Regions from separate parts of the Homo sapiens genome. Here regions 1, 3 and 4 are each reported to be linked to region 2. The links are microRNA targets in miRTarBase. Many come from high-throughput screens and were not tested one by one. Region 2 holds a microRNA gene; each other region holds the end of a gene's coding sequence.

What was found. Region 2 holds the annotated microRNA hsa-miR-744-5p (UGCGGGGCUAGGGCUAACAGCA, at 2,604-2,625, shown strand). A microRNA usually pairs through its seed, bases 2 to 8, with sites in the 3' UTR of a target mRNA and lowers its output. Matches are read on the target gene's strand: a 7mer-m8 pairs with bases 2 to 8, a 7mer-A1 pairs with bases 2 to 7 and ends in A, and an 8mer does both.
Region 1: the mRNA of EIF4A2 is a reported target of hsa-miR-744-5p. The part of its 3' UTR that is shown has no 7-base or 8-base seed match.
Region 3: miRTarBase lists HSPD1 as a target of hsa-miR-744-5p. The part of its 3' UTR that is shown has no 7-base or 8-base seed match.
Region 4: miRTarBase lists CCDC106 as a target of hsa-miR-744-5p. Seed matches in the 3' UTR shown: 7mer-m8 at 3,460-3,466.

The regions. Positions count from the first base shown.
Region 1 is chr3:186,787,841-186,791,750 of GRCh38, reverse strand. EIF4A2 (eukaryotic translation initiation factor 4A2) reads right to left here. Exons shown (of 11, transcript NM_001967.4): 10 at 3,869-3,910; 11 at 1,854-2,626. The coding sequence ends at 2,482. RFC4 (replication factor C subunit 4) reads left to right here. Exons shown (of 11, transcript NM_002916.5): 8 at 1-26; 9 at 1,345-1,425; 10 at 1,496-1,609; 11 at 1,687-1,851. The coding sequence ends at 1,782. Among named protein-coding and RNA genes, the nearest start is that of SNORA4, 2.2 kb to the right of the region's middle.
Region 2 is chr17:12,079,306-12,084,429 of GRCh38, forward strand. It overlaps MIR744 (microRNA 744), which reads left to right and starts at 2,594; the gene lies at 2,594-2,691. MAP2K4 (mitogen-activated protein kinase kinase 4) reads left to right here. Exons shown (of 11, transcript NM_003010.4): 3 at 2,051-2,225.
Region 3 is chr2:197,482,845-197,487,968 of GRCh38, reverse strand. It overlaps HSPD1 (heat shock protein family D (Hsp60) member 1), which reads left to right. Exons shown (of 12, transcript NM_002156.5): 11 at 1-111; 12 at 771-1,385. The coding sequence ends at 923. SNORA105B (small nucleolar RNA, H/ACA box 105B) reads left to right here and starts at 1,066; the gene lies at 1,066-1,181.
Region 4 is chr19:55,651,390-55,656,513 of GRCh38, reverse strand. It overlaps CCDC106 (coiled-coil domain containing 106), which reads right to left. Exons shown (of 5, transcript NM_001370470.1): 4 at 5,019-5,124; 5 at 3,353-4,084. The coding sequence ends at 3,768. U2AF2 (U2 small nuclear RNA auxiliary factor 2) reads right to left here and starts at 1,479. Exons shown (of 12, transcript NM_007279.3): 1 at 1,361-1,479. The coding sequence starts at 1,409. RefSeq lists enhancers at 654-733, 1,684-2,353 and silencers at 1,094-1,233, 1,444-1,493, 1,584-1,633.

The sequences.
Region 1 (3,910 bases), not on the chromosome of region 2:
AGAAAGTGATTACAGACATTGCCGGGGTAAGAGTACTGGATATTCTGAATTTCTTTTTAGTTGGCTTTTTTGTGGCTTTTAGGAAATTTTCATCCAACAAATACTGGGTGTTTAGCAAGTGCCAAGTACTGCACTAGGAAGTATAAGGGAATAACCTGGGAGTATCAGAGTGTTTGAGGTGAGGAGATAGCACTGACTTTTCAGTTTGTCAGGCATGTAACAGACATTTCAGGAAAGAAAAGGACACTTTCAGTTGTTAGTTTTTTTGTTTTTTTTTTTTTGAGACAGAGTCTTGCTGTGTCGCCCAGGCTGGAGTGCAGTGACGCAATACCGACTCACTGCAACCTCCACCTCCCGCCTCACCCTCCCAATTAGCTGGGATTACAGGCACCTGCCACCATGCCCAGCTAATTTGTATATTTTTAGTAGAGACGGGGTTTCACGATGTTGGTTGACCAGGCTGGTATGGAACTCCTGACCTCAGGTGATCCGCCCCCCGCTTAGCCTTCCAAAGTGCTGGGATTATAGGTGGGAGCCACCGCACCCAGCCTTCAGTTTTTAGATTTTATAAGAGATGCCTTTGGCAGTTAAATCAATTTTAGCAGATGTTCTTATACATGAAAACTATTTTGCCAGTTGTATATAAACAAAAGGCATATCCAACTTACAGTAATCATTTATTAAAGAGAATGGAGTACCCCACTTGTCTTTGGATACTCCCATGTAAAAACTCACTTCAGAATCACTACTACTTAACAACTTTTGTTTCTGTGACATTTTTCACCTGCACGGTAGGCCTTCCATATGACAAGACTGGTACCACTAATCCTCTTTGTTTCTATGACGTTTTTCACCTTCACGGTAGGCCTTCCATATGACAAGACTGGTACCACTAATCCTCTTTAATTTTCTGGATATTGTGGACTTTTTAAACCAATCTCATTAGTGGCATCTTTACATGGAGACATTGAGAGAAAGGGCACTTCCCCTTTAAAGAAATCAGTCTTTTTGATTGATCTTGGCCACTGTTCTGAGGAATCGTTATAGCCGCTAGGGGAAAACTTAATCTTCATCCACTGACCAGAACAAGCTATAATCCATGTGTGCCCAAACTTGGAAGTTCACAAAGCCATTAAAGGGCTTTAAAAGCACAGTTGTTAGCACCTTGGTTGCTTAGTGGTGACTGGAGTTACTCTGGCCCTTTCCGTTCTCCCAAAGCCTTCCCAGGAAAGTATGGAACTTAGGTGTGGAACAGAAATGACTGGGGGCACGGGGGCCAGTTGGCAGAGTGTATGTCTAGTCTCACCTAGAAACATCTTTAATACCGAACATTCAATTACCTAGGTAATACCAGCTGAGAAAATTGATGGAGTATTTGCTGCCTGTCAGAGTGGCTCTTTTGACAAACTAGAAGCTGTGGTCAAGGTAAAGTCAGCTTACTAACTTTGGGGAAAGGAATATTAAGTCATCATACCAAAAGTTTTTTTTATTATAGGATTTAATAGATGAGGGTCATGCAGCAACTCAGCTCGTCAATCAACTCCATGATGTGGTTGTAGAAAATAACTTATCTGATAAACAGAAGTCTATTATCACAGAAAAACTTGCCGTAAGTAGGTACTTTGCACATGTCAATGGAACATTTAACTACCTGAAGGATGCTAATTTCTTAAATTTTTCTCGTAGGAAGTTGACAAATGCCTAGCAGATGGTGCTGATGAACATTTGCAACTCATCAGCCTTTGTGCAACTGTGATGCAGCAGTTATCTCAGAATTGTTAACGTGAATATATCTGGATGGGGGGTTTTGTAAATAATGAAGTTGTAATAAAAATAAAATGACCAAAAGCACCTTTAAAGTGAATATACAATTTATTTAACATTCAAACTTCATTAAGACATGTGCAATATGGCAATTTTACTGGGGATTAAACCCTACCTAGGATTGCTTGCTGGGGCTTAGCAACAGGGTCCAGTTCACACTTAGCACTAATTAAATACTTTATTGAATAAATACAATACCAAACAAAATGCATTCAAATGCTTTCTAAAAAAATTTTAAAGGCCTTTCTACTCAGGCTAATGACAAACACAATAAAGGCAGATATGCTAGTTTAACATAATTGGCTGATTTTATACAGCACTTATATCTTTTAGTCCACAAGTATATTATTAAATGATAGAGAACATCTAATACAACCATTTCTACAGAACTAGGAAATAAATTTCTAAGAAAGAAAGATTTTACAGACCCCATCTTTTATACCCACCCCAACAGTCTAACTCTAAAGAGGATAAAGCCAATGACTTTCCTCACAAGAGCTCACGACTAACGTCGCTTTGCTATCAAAATCTGTATTTCTGATCCGTTATGAGCATTGAGACAAGATTCAAATATTCCCAAAGAAAGAAGCACAATGCACGTTGTGATCGCCTATTCAGCAACAGCGAGCACTGCATCCAAAACTCTCATCCCAGGAATTAAATAAGGTCAGCCACATTCATGGGCATCTCCTCCACTGTAGTATTGTAGAAAGTCTCAATGTCACGAAGAATCCTCTTGTCTTCTTCAGTAACAAAGTTTATAGCCACACCTTTCCTCCCAAATCGACCCCCTCTGCCAATTCTGTGTAAGAAAAAGAATCAGAACGTTACTTCTCACATAATGTATAAACTACTGAACATGACGATCCACTTGTTAACCACCAGCTGCTGTTTACTTATCAAGGTTATAGTTCGTGCTTCTAACTGGAGCACTAGCTGCTAATGCATATCTAGAGAAAAAAATCTTCCTTTGCAGTTAGTGCCAAAAGGATTCAAGGCTTGTCTGGCTGCAAAATGAGATTTTTATCAGGCATCTTGAGCATTATTATAAAGCAGATGACAGTATCGTGTTTGGGGTAGTGAAATTAAAGCCCATACCAAAGTGGGCCAGCCAAGAGCAGGTGTCAGCCTGGGACAGATGTGAACACCAGGAATAAAAGAGCAGTTATGTAATCCATTTCGACGCACTTCTGGAACTGTAAACTGTAAACAAATGCTGCAAAGGTTAACTATTTTCTAAAACTTACTTTTTTCCAGTGGGAAAACAAATATTTGGTATGGTAACCCAAACTTATCACTGCTTTTTTGCTCAGTTTCACACGTTGTAACTCAAATTACTCTAAACGTGTTTAACTGCCAAACAGCTACCTGCATGTTAGAAACCAGACAATACAAACCACCTAATAAGAAAGGTTCCCTAATAGAAATACTAATACAAAAAAATGCCTTAGCTGGAGCAACTTAAAAATCAAATAATCATGACAAAAGAAAAACAAATATAAATACCGACTCGCTCTTTATTCAAACAGTGTGCTGTTTCGCTTATGATTCCACGTCCTAAATTACGTCAACGCCGTTTCTGAGTGCCATCTCGTCACCAACTGCTGCTATCGACTCCTGTATTTTTTAAAAAGTCTTTTTTTACATCATATAACAAAGTACAATTCAATTTATTTAGGGATAAAGCCACTATAACTAAACCAGGGTTCACTCAAATTGCTACCAGGCGACACCAAGAAAATCCCAACTATAGAAAAAATCACCAAGAAAAACACATGGACACAAGAACATCACTAAAAGCTCAAGCATAAGGTAAGACCAACAATTGTGGAAAAAAACCCTATGTCCACAATCTGGGCAATGTTTACAAGTTTTCCCACTTTGTTCTCATCAACCTTCCCTAGTACAAATTTAATTACATCATCTTACTGAACACTACTGACTTTACTGAATCTATTCCTTGATTTGATGTTACCTTTCATACAAATCACAGTAGAAAAACGTATGAATTTTTTTCAATACAGCCAAGATGCTGGCTTCTCACCTGTGAATATAGTTTTCACGATTGGTAGGTAGATCATAATTT
Region 2 (5,124 bases):
ATCTTTAAAATAAGACATAATATTGTAACTGTTTTCATTCTGTAATTTCTATATAGTAATGAAATATCTTTCATTTCAGTTCTCAAGAATGCTAGCATAAGTATTATATAGCAATGTAGTCATGAGAGTCATATTATATCATCTTTACCATATTCTCTTGGTTAGAGGTAAGTCACAGGTCCCACTCACACCCAAAGAAATATGCCTACACAAAAATACGAACACTAAGAAGGTGGGGATCATGAGGACTTCCTGGAGCCTGTCTGCCACAGCCCTTCAATTAGCGAACACTGTAAAAAATTTTGCTTCTGATTTACAAGTAATTTTAATTAACTTTTTTTCAGCTTCCCTCAGTGGTAGATTGGTGCTGTATATTTCACCAGTGATTTTGCCATTGAGATAGTATTTACTTGCCAAAGATTATAGAACAATAATCATTATACATGGAACTTCTTCATGTTAGAACTTTTTTCAGGCTTAATCTGTCTACTTCATGAAAAAGATTACCAAGAAGAGTTTCCTATTTTTGCCTAGACCTGATTTCCATCTTAAAAGATCAGTTCCAGCTTCATCTTCACCTAAATGGTCACTTATGCCACTGATTTCCGGGCTTCTTGTGATTCTGGATGCTAGAGTATCAAATAATATGGGTGAAAGGACTTTGAACTGAAAAGCACTTGTATGAATGAAAGCTTATCACTTAGTATGATTTGAAAGTCTGTTATTTGGAACACTGATTTAGTAAATTGTTATTTAGACCAAGTGTATGAATCTTTGAAGTGTAACTTTGAACCTTAATATTAGTACATACGATTATTCTCAGAGTGGGGGTAGATTTTAAAGTTCTAAGTTTTTTGGGAACCTTAAAGGTTGCTACAGAAAACCATTCTACTAATTGGAGAAAACTTTCCTAAATTTTGGAAGAAGAAAAATAATGACCAAGCACATAAACTTTGCTTGTTTGCATCATAGGATCAGAGTTTAAAAGAGATCCTGATCATTTAGTATGAAACTGAAAAATGTAGTTGATATTTAATGAATTCTTTCATTGTGTGTATGGTTGATAGTTTGTTCCTACACATTGGGGTTTGGTGTGTGTGTGAGAGAGAGCAAGAGAGAGAAACAGATTGATTTTACATTTTTCATTGGATTTACTTTTTTACAAAGCATGGTTAGAAGTTATTAATACTTTGATCTCCAGGTTGAGATTTTGGAGATGATTTTTTATTTAATGGAAATATGTAATGAGTGAGCTCTTTTGTCTACGAGCCACTCATTTTTTATCCCATTGCTTTATCGAACGAGGGCTGAAAATTTCAATTTTGAATAGCACATGGCAATTTTCCTCTTAGAGCCAGCTAGCTATTCAGTTAACTGTTCTCCCACCTCAGGATGGTATTAACAAGAACAGGACAGTATACTAAGGCACTAGTTCCCAAACATTACTGGAATCATCTGGGGGTCTTTAAAAATACTGTTTTCTGACTCCTGTCCCTGGATAATTCAGATGTAATTGCTATGGGACGATACCTGGGCATTGAGATTTTTAAAATCTCCCCCAGGTGATTGTAAGGTACAGCAAACCTTGGGAATAGTTGTACTAACTGAAGATTGAGGCACTGGAATAACTAATGTTGGGTAAGATAGGGTAAGAACTTTTTCGCAATAAGGTTTGCAGCTCTTGGGATTCTCACTTGATAATGCTGTTTGGATAAACCATCATCCAAGTTTGAATAAGATCTTATATTTAGAAATGAAAACTGATCTGCAGAATTAGTTTAATCAATAAATGGGAATTTTTAAAAATCTTCTTGGCAATTTGTTTTTATGAATCCCGTTGAAGCTGTGTCTATTGACTACCTAAATCTAGATCATTCTTAATCCAGTGTGTAAAAAACCAGGATGACACAAATGAAAAACTTCAAAAACCTGGAGGTCAGACTATTTTAGTAATTTAGAAAACATTTTTCCCACACATTAATCAGTACTAAAAGAAAAAAGTTAAAACCTATTTAAAATGTGGAAAAATTGCTTCCCAATATTTTAACAGAGAGAGACTGAGAACACACAGCATTGAGTCATCAGGAAAACTGAAGATCTCCCCTGAACAACACTGGGATTTCACTGCAGAGGACTTGAAAGACCTTGGAGAAATTGGACGAGGAGCTTATGGTTCTGTCAACAAAATGGTCCACAAACCAAGTGGGCAAATAATGGCAGTTAAAGTAGGTGATGCCATGATTATTTTTGGTACTTTAATCCATTAGGTGAAATTTCATGGTGCAGTAATACCACTGTTGTTGTGTTCCTACTTTTGTGGTAAATGTGGGTGTTTAAAAAATTGTTTCTCCAACTCCTTTGAGGGTGTTCTGTGTAGAGGTTTCTTATTGGTGGCACATTTTCTATCTCTTTGGAAACATGAGTGTATGAAGTGTGCATGTTGATTGCATTTTTGGCATGATGCATTAACATGTTTTAAACTTCAGGCCCTTCTACTGCCAAGGTGAGTTCAGGCTGGGCGGCTGCACCCCTGGGAGCAGGGCAGTGCTGCACTGAGCCAGGCGGGAGCTGGAAGAAGACGCAGCACACTGGGTTGGGCAAGGTGCGGGGCTAGGGCTAACAGCAGTCTTACTGAAGGTTTCCTGGAAACCACGCACATGCTGTTGCCACTAACCTCAACCTTACTCGGTCCTGACCGGCTCGGCTTCTGTTTGTTTATTTCATCTCTACTCAGTACTGCCCTGTTCCCTGGTTTTAAAGTTGTACTGAAATGCATACCTTGTGATAATGTTGTCACATTTTGTCCTTATTGTGTCGTGCCACTTAATATGTTCATTAAAAAAAAAAAATGGCCAGAAACAGAGATTTGATCCATAGACAATACCTGGCAAGCTTATGCTGGTACCTGTAAAGAACTGGTGGTTTCCATCTGACTCCTAGTTTCATGTAATTGTAATTTATTCATTTGTTTGTTTAGATGTTTAACAAATCTTTGCTGTATGTAAGATATTTCAGGAAAATCAGCAACAGGGGGAACAACTTGCAAAAACAAAGGAAAAAAAGCTAGCTGTGGCCATACCCTCTCTGAGCTTAAAATTCCTATGGGAACAAAAATGTTTCAGTTTACAAGAATTCAGAATGGATTTGCATATAGTCCAAGCTAATCATCTTCCTATTAGTGTCCTATTTTGAGAGTTTGTCAGAGTGGTTGATAAGAGTCCTTAGTTTTTTCTTGACATTTGAGAATGAATTTAAATTAAAATAAAATGCTTTCTGTGTAGAAGTCTGTTGTGAGCCAAACCTTACTGTAACTATTTTAGTATCCTTCACTGTTGAGCATTTCTTTTTGCTGGGTCATATGAAAGTAATGTTAAATTAGTGGTAGGGAAAATTTTTATGATTCTCTCTATGGGTTCCTAACATTGTTTTTGGCTGTATTTTTAAAATGTGGTGAGAACTATAGACTTTTCATAGGCAGGTGTATATACACAACATTTTGTATACAAACCGTAGACCTCTAAAGATGCACAGGTGAAGAACTCTGCATTATGTGTTAAAATAAAATGTTTTATTGGAATGTGAAATGATTTCTGTATTCCTATTTTGTGCCACTGCAGTGTAAGTGGAAAGAGTCATTTTATTTAGACTCCTGGATGAATGTTGTGTTGTCCCTTTGTGCTACCTGTGTGTGACATCCAGTTTTAGTTGGCTGGATCTTAAGGGAAAGGTTTCCTATATAGTTAAAGTTGTAAACTTTTCTTTCAGGTACTAGGGAAAGTAATTTTAAAAAATTATTTCCTGCTTTTTACAGTTTGTGTTATGTGTGCTTCAACTTTGTTGATGAACATTATTAAACATTTTAGTAATATGGATTGATTTTAGCCATTGTTAAAAAGGTCATAAAGGTAAAGAGGGTACTTCCTTTTGACACTTAAAAGTTTTTCTCACTGATTAATTTGATAATATTTTGGGTTGTATAATGCTTACTCAAGTTTTGTAGGAATTCAAGAATGAAAATAGGAAATTGTTGTCCATCATTTGTAATGTTACATTATCAGTGGCTACTGGCTACTGTGACAGTTCCAGTTGGGATGCTATTAAAAATCCCAGCTGTACTTGAAGAACTTTCAAGGCAGTCATGAGACCTACAAACTGGTTGCTGTCACATGTATACCCACCACATGGTACTACCTAGCTTCGTTTACCATCTCGAATTCTTGAACAAGCATAGCAGTTGGGGATGGGAGAGGATGGCAGTACAACACATCAATTAACATATAGTTGAGGAGTACCTTTGGATTCCATGACTTCATTAATACTGGAAGAATAAGTGTTTTTGCATTAATATGCATTAAAATTTGATACCAATTGATGACAGATGTATGCCATCTCTGAATTAAAGAATGCATTTATTATTGGTTTCTTCAAAGAAGAATAGTCTTTCATCACACTTGAGAGAGTTCATTCATTCCTCATTTAGGTACATTGACTGGATTGACAGGCACAAATATACAGAATCAATGTATGATTAAGGAGGTGTTTGATTTGAGACTTTACGGTTTTAAAGGAACCATGAGACGGTGGTTCACACAGCTGAGAGCTTTCCATTGCTGTTGGTGAAATGAGAAACACGCTTGAAGTAACTCTGTGCTAACATCTTAATACACACTTTGAGAATAAAGAAGGATTGCATTATTAGATGTTAAGCTGGAAATGATCCTTAAGATTTACTTGCAATATCTGTAGAAAAGTGAACTGTGATATTAGCTTGATTTTTTTCTTTGTATTATTCCTCATTTTTAGTTCTGAGGAATTCCTTCCCCAAATTTATTTTGCCATATATAAGAAATATTTGAAAAAGGTGACTTCTTAGTAACCAGAGTTAATTACCCCAAAGACTTAATCTAAAAATCAGTTTTGATATAATCAGATTTAGTGAGGTAACATTGTAAGAGTTATACTTAAAACAATTTTTTGATGTTTGGTTTGAGGACAGTCTCCCAAGCTATCGGTGAGTTTCTGCATTAGGACCTAAGATGTGAACATGGTTTACCCTTTAGTTTTAATTGCACGTGCTTGGGAAAAGGGTCTTGCTCTCCTGTGAGTGGGAGTAATTTGTATACT
Region 3 (5,124 bases), not on the chromosome of region 2:
GGATCTTTGATAGTTGAGAAAATTATGCAAAGTTCCTCAGAAGTTGGTTATGATGCTATGGCTGGAGATTTTGTGAATATGGTGGAAAAAGGAATCATTGACCCAACAAAGGTAAATGGTTGAACACTTTCTAAAAATTCTTTTGTTGTTCATTTTGTTAATGTATCCTCACATCCCAAATCTTTGATTTTGTCACCAGAAAAATAGTCTAATAGCAGTAGCAACAGCAATAGCTCTTGTGCCCATCAACAATTCTCATGTACATTTCCAGCACCTAGATATTTAATACTCCACTAAAAGGAAGCAGGATCCCTTGAGTAGCAGTTGAGTCCATGCCTGGAGGCAGGAAAAAATCAGGATGGATCTGGAACACCCTGTTCCTGCCTGGCAGTAAGAATACTTTCCAAGATACGCAGAACAGGGTTTTGTTTTGTTTTGAAGACAGAGTCGCTGTGTCGCCCAGGCTGGAGTGCAGGCAGTGACAACCTCCACCTCCTGGGTTCAAGCGATTCTCCTGCCTCAGGCTCCTGAGTAGCTGGGATTACAGGCATGCACCACCATGCCTGGCTAATTTTTGTATTTTTAGTAGAGACGGGGTCTCATCATGTTGGCCAGGCTGGTCTTGAACTCCTAACCTCAAGTCATCTACCTGCCTCAGCCTCCCAAAGTGCTGGATTACAGGTGTGAGCCACCATGCCCAGACAGAAATTTTCAATAAGTCTTGCTCATATTTTACTAAGGGAAAACTAATTAATTAAATTTTTTTCTAGGTTGTGAGAACTGCTTTATTGGATGCTGCTGGTGTGGCCTCTCTGTTAACTACAGCAGAAGTTGTAGTCACAGAAATTCCTAAAGAAGAGAAGGACCCTGGAATGGGTGCAATGGGTGGAATGGGAGGTGGTATGGGAGGTGGCATGTTCTAACTCCTAGACTAGTGCTTTACCTTTATTAATGAACTGTGACAGGAAGCCCAAGGCAGTGTTCCTCACCAATAACTTCAGAGAAGTCAGTTGGAGAAAATGAAGAAAAAGGCTGGCTGAAAATCACTATAACCATCAGTTACTGGTTTCAGTTGACAAAATATATAATGGTTTACTGCTGTCATTGTCCATGCCTACAGATAATTTATTTTGTATTTTTGAATAAAAAACATTTGTACATTCCTGATACTGGGTACAAGAGCCATGTACCAGTGTACTGCTTTCAACTTAAATCACTGAGGCATTTTTACTACTATTCTGTTAAAATCAGGATTTTAGTGCTTGCCACCACCAGATGAGAAGTTAAGCAGCCTTTCTGTGGAGAGTGAGAATAATTGTGTACAAAGTAGAGAAGTATCCAATTATGTGACAACCTTTGTGTAATAAAAATTTGTTTAAAGTTAATAATTGTGTTAGCATTTCCATGATTAGAAGATACTGAAAATTGAAAGCCAGTTGAAGGGCAGGCTGGCATGTGTGTAAAACATTATCCTATCTATGATATTTTCATGTTTCTCTTTGTTGCAGACTGAACTACATTATTCCATTGATAATGGGGAAAGACAGTTTCTATTTTCCCCGGTGCAAGGATGTAATCTCTCTTGGAGCTGTAAAATCTGGGAGGTTGGAGGGAACTCCAGCTCCTCAGCATGGCCTTTGGGCTGCTGCTGCAAGCAAGGCATTGAGGCAAATATTTTTGCTGTCCTTACCTTGGACAGAAGTAGAGGGGAGAAATAAAGTCCATCATCACATGAAAAGTCAGTCACTTGAAATCCTGTACCTAGAATACCTTTGGCTTTGGTAATTTCGTTGTGTTTGGGGTACAAAAAAAAGGATCTATTTGATAGCACAACGGGGTGACTATAGTCAATAATAATTGTACATTTAAAAATAAAAGAATGTAATTGGATTGTAACAAAGGATAAATGGTTGAGGGGTGATGATGATCACCCCTCCATTTCCATGATATGATTCTCCATGATATGATTCTCCATGATATAATTATTTCACACTGCATGCCTACATCAAAACATCTCTTGTACCCCAGAAATAAATACACCTGCTAGGTACCCAAAGAAATTTAAAAAAGGAGGATTGGTCAGCAAATGAGAGGGGATTGAATAAAAGGCATGTTAACTGAAGAAATCTTGTCTAGAATGTAGTTTGGGCTGTAAAAGTGGCAAGCAAGCAAACTCAAGTAAAAGAAATCTAGGGAGATAATTTACATCTTAAGAGGCCAACTAGTTTATTAGAAGAACAAGGAATAAGAAACACCTGGACTTAGTTCGTATTAGAGCAGGGAGAGTGACAGAAGACTAGAGATTAATAGGAGAGGAAAAACTAACCAAGTGTTTGCTATGCATTAGACATCAGGATAGGTAATTTTAACCCTCAATGTTAGGTTTGGGACTATTAAGCCTATGCTACATTTATATAAACTGAGACTCTGAAGGTCTAACTGCCAGCCGGGCCCAGTGGCTCATGCTTGTAATCCCAGCACTTTGGGAAGCTGAGGCGGGCAGATCACCTGAGGTCAGAAGTTCAAGACCAGCCTGACCAACATGGTGAAACCCCGACTCTACTAAAAATACAAAAAATTAGCTGGGCATGGTGGCAGGCACCTGTAATCCCAGCTACTTGGGAGGCTGAGGCAGGAGAATCGCTTGAACCCGGGAGGCAGAGGTTGCAGTGAGAAAAGAAAAAAACGGTGATAGGACTTAGGAATTCAGGTTTGTGGTCTAGTTCTGGTTTCACCAATAAGTGTAACCTTGGGTGCTTTCCTTCTCAAGCTAAGAAAGGAAAACGGAATTTCCCAATTCCTCTGGCTGCAGCTTTCAGGTTTCTTGCAACAATTGCCTAGACCCTGCTTAGCTTGTTCTTAGGTTGAGATCTTAAGTGTTTAAATGAAACACTGGTTCAAATTTGGGTCTACCACTTAACAGCTCTGAGACTGTGGAAGTTACTTAAGACTTTTTGAGATGGAGTCTCACCATCACCCGCTGGAGCACAGTGGCGCAATCTCGTGATCCTCAGCCACCCAAAGTGCTGGGATTACAGGCGTGAGCCACCACCCCTGGCCCAGTCTGATTTTCAAACAGTTAAATGTGGACCATCAATGTTGGAGTAAGAAAAGTACAGTGTAGTTTGTCATACTGAAAATACTCAGTCTGAATAGTTTGAATTTAGTAACCTTAAATGAAATCTTTGACTTTGTCACTAAAAAAAAGGTCTAATAGTAGTAGCAGCAACAGTAGCACTTGTGCCCATCAATAATTCTTTTTTTTTTTTTTTTTTTTTTTTTTGGAGATGGAGTTTCACCCTATTGCCAGGCTGGAGTGCAGTGGTGCAATCTCAGCTCACTGTAACCTCCACCTGGGTTCAAGCAATTCTTCTGCCTCACCCTCCTAAGTAGCTGGGATTACAGGTGTGCACCACCATGCCTGGCTAATTTTCATATTTTTAGTAGAGATGGGGTTTTACCATGTTGGTCAGGCTGGTCTCAAACTCCTGACCTCATGATCCACCCACCTCGGCTTCTGAAAGTGCTGGAATTACAGGTGTGAACCACCGCCACCAGCTGCCCATCAACAATTCTTACGTACATCTCCAGCACCTAGATATTTAATACTCCACTAAAAGGAAACAGGATTCCTTGAGTAGCAGTTGAATCCATGTCTTGAGGCAGGAAAAATGTCAGGATGGATCTGCAACACCCTGTTCCTGCCTGGCAATGAGAATACTTTCAAAAACACCCAGAGCTTTTTTTTTTTTTTTTTTTTTTTTTTTGAGACAGAGTCTTACTCTGTCATCCAGGCTGGAGTGCAGACAGTGGGGCGATCTCGGCTCATTGCAATCTCCACCTCCTGGGTTCAAGTGATTCTCCTGCCTTAGGCTCCTAAGTAGCTAGGACTACCGGTGCACACCACCATGCCTGGCTAATTTTTGTATTTTTAGTAGAGATGGTTTTGCCATACTGGTCAGGCTCGTTTCAAATTCCTGACCTCAAGTGATCTGCTGGCCTTGGCCTCCCAAAGTGCTGGGATTACAGGCGTGAACCACCTTGCCCAGCCACAGAGAAGTTTTAAAGACAAGAGCCAGCATGGCTGGGTGCCGTGGCTCACACCTGTAATCCCAGCACTTTGGGAGGCTGAGGTGGGTGGATGTTAGAAATGCTTGTTCCCCGGTGCTATAAAGAAATAGCACTTGAACATATATTTAATTTTCTCAGCAAGGCCATTTTTACTTTCTGCAGAAAGGGTACACTCACCAGCAGTTTTGCCACGAGAGTACACCGAACAAAAGAGACAGGGTCATTTATAACCTGGTGCATCCACCCTACTGCTGTGCCTGGTTTCCATTCACTGGAATGGGACCTCACATTCTCTATTTGTCCCCATTGGCTAGCAACTTAGAACTTTTCAAAAGAGGCAAAGGCAAGGAGAATACAGGCAGGAGGAAGTAACTTGCGGGATGCTGAGAAAGGTAAAAAAAAAAACACCTCCAAATAAGGAAGAGGAACAGGCTATGACCTAATGTTTGCTTGGACCAGTATAAGCATGCCAGGGCAAATATTTAGGCTAAATTGTGGGAGCTAAGAACACAAAGTATATTGATTTCTTTATTATGGCTAGCAGATATTTAAGAATGTTAGCACAGGTCTTTGAATAAATTTTGCTCCTAGGAGAAGTTGGTATTTCTTCTTAATTAGACAGGGAGGAAAGTCTCTTTGAAGAGGAACCTCTACTTCACTTTTGGTTTTGTTTTGTTTCGAGACGGAGTCTCTGTTGCCCAGGCTGGAGTGCAGTGGCTTGATCTCGGCTCACTGCAACCTCTGCCTCCCCAGTTCAAGCGATTCTCCTGCCTCAGCCTCCAGAATAGCTGGGACTACAGGCGCCCGCCACCATGCCCAGCTAATTTTTGTATTTTTAGTAGAGACGAGGTTTCACCATGTTGGCCAGGCTGGTCTTGAACTCCTGACCTCAAGTGATCCACCCACCTGGGCCTCCCAAAGTGCTGGGATTACAGATGTGAGCCACTACGCCCAGCTTTTTGCAATTACCTGAGGTCAAGAGTTCGAGACCAGTCTGACCAATATGGTGAAACCCCGTCTCTACTAAAAATACAAAAATTAGCAGGGCATGGT
Region 4 (5,124 bases), not on the chromosome of region 2:
TCTACAAATGGAAAAAAATATATAAACGTATTAAAAGCAGTTACTAAACGACAAAGCAGGTATCTAAACTTCCTGATGTGCTCAACTCCAAAGCCTATGCTCTTGAGCAGTCCATCAACTAAGACAGAGTCAGACCCTCAGTAAACGTTATTGCTTCCCCAGGACACTGTTTCCTAATACAGCCCCTACCCAACTCTAGCCCGGGTTCAAAGGAAAATTCCTCAGCCCTCATTTCGTCCTCCGAACGAGCTAGGAACATGGGCAGCTGAAGCCTGAAAAGAAACAAGTCTCCAATCTTCCCTGGTCCTGTATTTCTTCACAAACTGAAACACGGAGGATTTTTAAAGCGTCTTAACAACTCTCCCACTTCTAATATTATTGGAATCCCTAAGATCAGGGCCCCAGGCTTTTTGTTCTAACCCATCACAATTTTCGATACCCTGAAGGGAACCTGCCTCCCACCTTCCCCGTAAGTGAAGAGTTTAGCGCAGTGGGCCAGATCCCTCTTCCTCCCTCAGAACCTGTTTTCTTATCTCTATATTGAGATCTGAGACTGAGTATTATCAGGTGCCCTGAGATTGGGATTGTAAATGATTTGAGGTTTGTCTCAAACACTCCATATCGCGATTCTCGGGACCGCCAAAAGCCCCGCATATGCAGGATGTGTGCGTGCGGACACTCAAAGAATGCAGATGCTTTTAGGCAACATGTGCCAAACACGTTAATATGAGGCGCCCCACTACCAACAGACGGGGCAGAAACCACCTGGCGGGAGAGATCAGAGCAAATCAGCAAAAAGGAAAAGGGGTACGCGAGGGGCCCGTGGCCTCCAAGCATCCGCCGAAACGGCTCTGCCCTCATCCACGTGAAGGAAGGAAAGGGGCCCCCCCACCAAGTTCTCACAACCGCCATTTTGGAAACAAAGGGGGCGTGGAGACGCTGCCGTGGGCCCGACCGGAAGCGGAAGTGCCAAGGCAGCGGGAGAAAAGAGATTACGGGGACTAACATAATCTCCTTTTCAGAGAAACCAAAAAGATTTTAAAAAACAAAAGTTCACGTCGAGGCATCTGGCGCGCTCGTGCCGCGTCCCCCGCGCCACCTCCGCCAGGACCACGTGGGGCGCAGGGACAGCCGCCGTGCGCATGCGTCACGGGCCCGCGCCCCGCCGCCCCCTTCCCCTCGCCTAGCGCGCGGCGGAACGCTGGGGACGTCACGTGAACGAGGCGCGCGCCACGGAACCAGGGTTGGGGGGCGCCGCGCGGCCGTGAAGTGGGGGGAAGCGAGGGAGAAAATGGCGGGGGGGCAAAGAGCGACGCGAGGAGCCGCCCACACCTCCGCCCCGCGACCCCGGTGCCCTCACCTTGTTTATTCTCGTTGAGCTGCCGCTCGAACTCGTCGAAGTCCGACATGCTGAGGCGGCCGCGTAGGGCCCTGTGCAGCTTTCGCCTCGCCTTGCCGCCCGCTCCAGCCGCTTCGGCTACTTCCGCCGCTGGCTTCGGCTACTTCCGGCCGCCGCCGGCGCTTCGCCACCTCCTACCTAATCAAGCCTCCGGCAGCCCTCCCCGCCCCGCCCGGGCTCCGCCCCCTCACCCGCCCGCCCGCCCGCGAGCTTGCCCCTCCCCCCGAGCCTGGCTCCGAAGCGCCTCGGCTATCTCCGGATACTGGACGAAGGCGAAGCAGGCGGCCGCTTCGGCTGCTTCCGAAAACACCCGAACGTAGGGTTTCGCCGACTTCCCAGGTTTCCGTAACTTTTCCGAGATTATCTCCTCAACGTTCGGAGGTTTCCGTGTGTCCTCGTGTGCCACTGCGCCCAGTCCCCTCTGCGAGTTCGGGTTCTTCCAACAATTCAATCCGTCCCAGTCTTTGGCTTCTTCCACGGACTTGCTCCGATCTTCTCCGCCGGCCCTGTCCAAGCAATCGGCCACTTCCGACAATCCTAACCGTCCCGGCCTTCGGCTCTTTCCGGAGATTTCCGGATCTCGCCCTCGGGCCCCTCCTGGGATTAAGCTCGAGTCCGTGTTTCGGCTCTTTCCGGAGATGCCACTTGCTCACGCCTCCGATCAGAGAACTTCGGCTCCTTCCGCCACCGCTTCGTGAAGGCCTCACTCTCCGGGGACAGCTTCGACTTTTTCCGTGGGTACCTCGGCTCCTTCCGGCTTCGGGAACGGAAAAGGGAAGGAGAACAGAGACGAGATGGATCAGGGGAAGGGATAGAGAAGGGGACGAGGTCCTAGTTCTCGGCACCTGGCTCTCCGGGTGGGGAAAGTGAAAGAAAAAAAGGGCCGGCCTCGCGGAGGGCCTGAGAAGGTTGTGCCAGACAAAAGCAGCAAGAGGGATGAAGGGTGCGCGCGACCGCTGCGGAGGTTGCCAGCGCGGCTTTTTGCGCCTGCGCAGGGTGGAAGCCGCGGGTGAGGGGAAACAGGCTTCTGCGCCTGCGTAAAAGTCGTTCTGTGGCGCGCTCTCCCACTGCTCCCGTGAAGGGGGTTGCGGGGACCAGGTTTCAGTCCCCATTGCGCGTGCGCGAGATTTCCCTTACAACGGTGAAAGTGCTTAATCCCCAGCCGTTAAATCCGGCCACCCTCTTGGTTGTCTCGGCAACCACATCAACGCGCTCCGGCTCTTCCCGCCGCGCAGGCGCGGCAGACGGATCATCTGGCATTACTTCCGGGAGACAGATGATCTGGCGTTACTGCCCCCTGGCGGCCCAACGGAAGTATCCTCCAGACTTGGCCTGGCCGCTAGGTGGCCTCCCTCGCTAGAGGTCATCGACTCACGCCTCTCGCGCCGCGCTCCGGTCTGGGTAGCCCAGCGGGTAGTGTCCACGCTTCTTTTTACTTTTTTTTTTTTTTTTTTGAGACGGAGTCTCTGTCGCCCAGGCTGGAGTGCAGTGGCGCGATCTCGGCTCACTGGAACCTTCGCCTGCCGGGTTCAAGCGATTCTCCTGCCTCAGCCTTCCAAGTAGCTGGGACTACAGGCGCCCGCCACCACACCTGGCTAATTTTTTGTATTTTTAGTAGAGACGGGGTTTCACCGTGTTAGCCAGGATGGTCTCGATCTCCTGAACTCGTGATCCGCCTGCCTCGGCCTCCCAAAGTGCTGGGATTACAGGCGTGAGCCACCGCGCCCGGCTGTGTCCGCGCTTCTTTTCCCGAGCTCTGCCTCCGAGTTTTCTGGGGCGCAGCTGCTTCACTCTCCATCTCTGCCTCCGGGGGGCTAATTACACCGTATCCTACCCGTCCTCCCGCCTGACCACCCACCCCCTTGGAAGCCCCCGCAACCCCGTCACCGTCTTCGGGGCGACGGCCGCCCCCTCCCAGGCACGTCCCCCTCCTAGGAAGAGGCTGAGGCCAAGTTTATTCCAAATTTTCACGTCGTTTTTTAATTTAAATTATCTGAATAATTCTCTGTCTCACGCGGAGTTGGGGAGGTCTGTCCGGGAATCAGGTGGGCAGCTCCTCCGCGGGGCCAGGGCGGAGACGGGGTCTGTACAGTCCCCCACTCGAGGGGGGGGCACCCGCCTGCCTGGTTTTCCAGGAGGAAGGGGCCCGGCGAGGACAGGGCTGGGCAGCCCAAGCGGAAGGGGGTGCCGGCGTTCGGGAAGGGGCCGCGGCCGGTCCGGGGCCGTCGCGCTTGGGGGCCCGGCTAAGGGAGCCCCCAACCCAGGGAGCGAGGAGGAGGGGCAGGGGCGCGGCGGGGAGAGGGGCAGGTCATCCACCGGGGTCCACGGGGGAGGAAGGCCCGGGTGGAGGCGCGGAGGCGTGGTGCGATCACCGCTTGAAGCGGTAGGTGATGGGCAGCAGCAGCTTGCTCTTCTTGAGCGCCTGCACCTTCTTGAGCGTCTCGTCGTCCAGGGCCAGAAAGCAGCGGCGGGAGTACTCGAGCAGGCGCTCCTTGGAGGGGTCGAACTCGCCCACCTCGGCCAGCTTCTCGGGGGCCACAATGAGCAGCTCGGCGATGGGCGTGGTCAGCGCCACGGTGTTCCTGTCCACGCGGTGGTGCTCGAAGGCCCGCGACATGCTCTTGAGCTTCTGGAAGGTGCCCAGGATCTTCTTGTACCGGCAGAGGACCCCGTCGGCGTCCTTCACTGAGGGGTGGAGGCGGGGACACGAAAGTGAGGGGCAGGGCACAAGACTGAGGGGGCGGACACGGGAAGGGAAACGGCCATGGGAAGAAAGGATCTCGGCGAGCAGAGGCACGGGCCGGTGCAGGTGGAGACGGAGAACAACAGGCAAGGAAGGGGCAGAGAGGAGGGGAAGAATCGCAGCCAGATCTTGGACCAGTGGGAAATGGGAAGAGGCAGGCCCAGGAAGGAGAGTGAGGAGACAAAATGAGCCAAGAGGCCGGGTTCAACCCACGCGGTCCCAGCACCCCCCGACACCCCGAGCCATCACCCTCGTCTCCCTGCCTCAGGTGAATTCACTTATTCAAGTCTCACCCTCCCCGTGAGGTAGGTCCTACTGCGCACCTCCTCCTTACTGATGAAAGTTAAGGAGGTGCCCAAGGTGGCCCTGCCCTCGACGGTGGACCAAAACTTAAAAGTAAACCCAGGACAGGCCATGCGCGGTGGCTCACGCCTGTAATCCCAGCACTTTGGGAGGCCGAGGCAGGTGGATCACGAGGGCAGGAGATCCAGACCATCCTGGCAAACACGGTGAAACCCTGGCCTCTACTAAAAATACAAAAAATTAGCCAGGCGTGGTGGCGGGTGCCTGTAGTCCCAGCTACTCGGGAGGCTGAGGCAGGAGAATGGCGTGGACCCGGGAGGCGGAGATTCCAGTGAGGTGAGAATGCGCCACTGCACCACTCCAGCCTGGGCGACGGGGCAAGACGTCCCCCCCGCCAAAAAAAAAAAAGAAAGTAAACCCAGGACCACACGTGGAGGAGGGAGAGACAGAACCCGGTGGGTCTTTCTCCAGCAAGGCTGGAGGGGCTTGGAGAGAAAGGGGGACCTCTGGGAAGGACACACAGCAATTCAGCAGCCCGGGCCCCTCAGCGCCCGCCCCATGCACCCCACTCACCTCGCTGCCTCTCCCGGGCCTTGGGCTTCCCAAAGCGCCTCCGACTAGCACCTCCCTTCTGCTTCTGCCGCCTCCTCTCACTGGCGCTGCCTTCTTCGGACGCTCC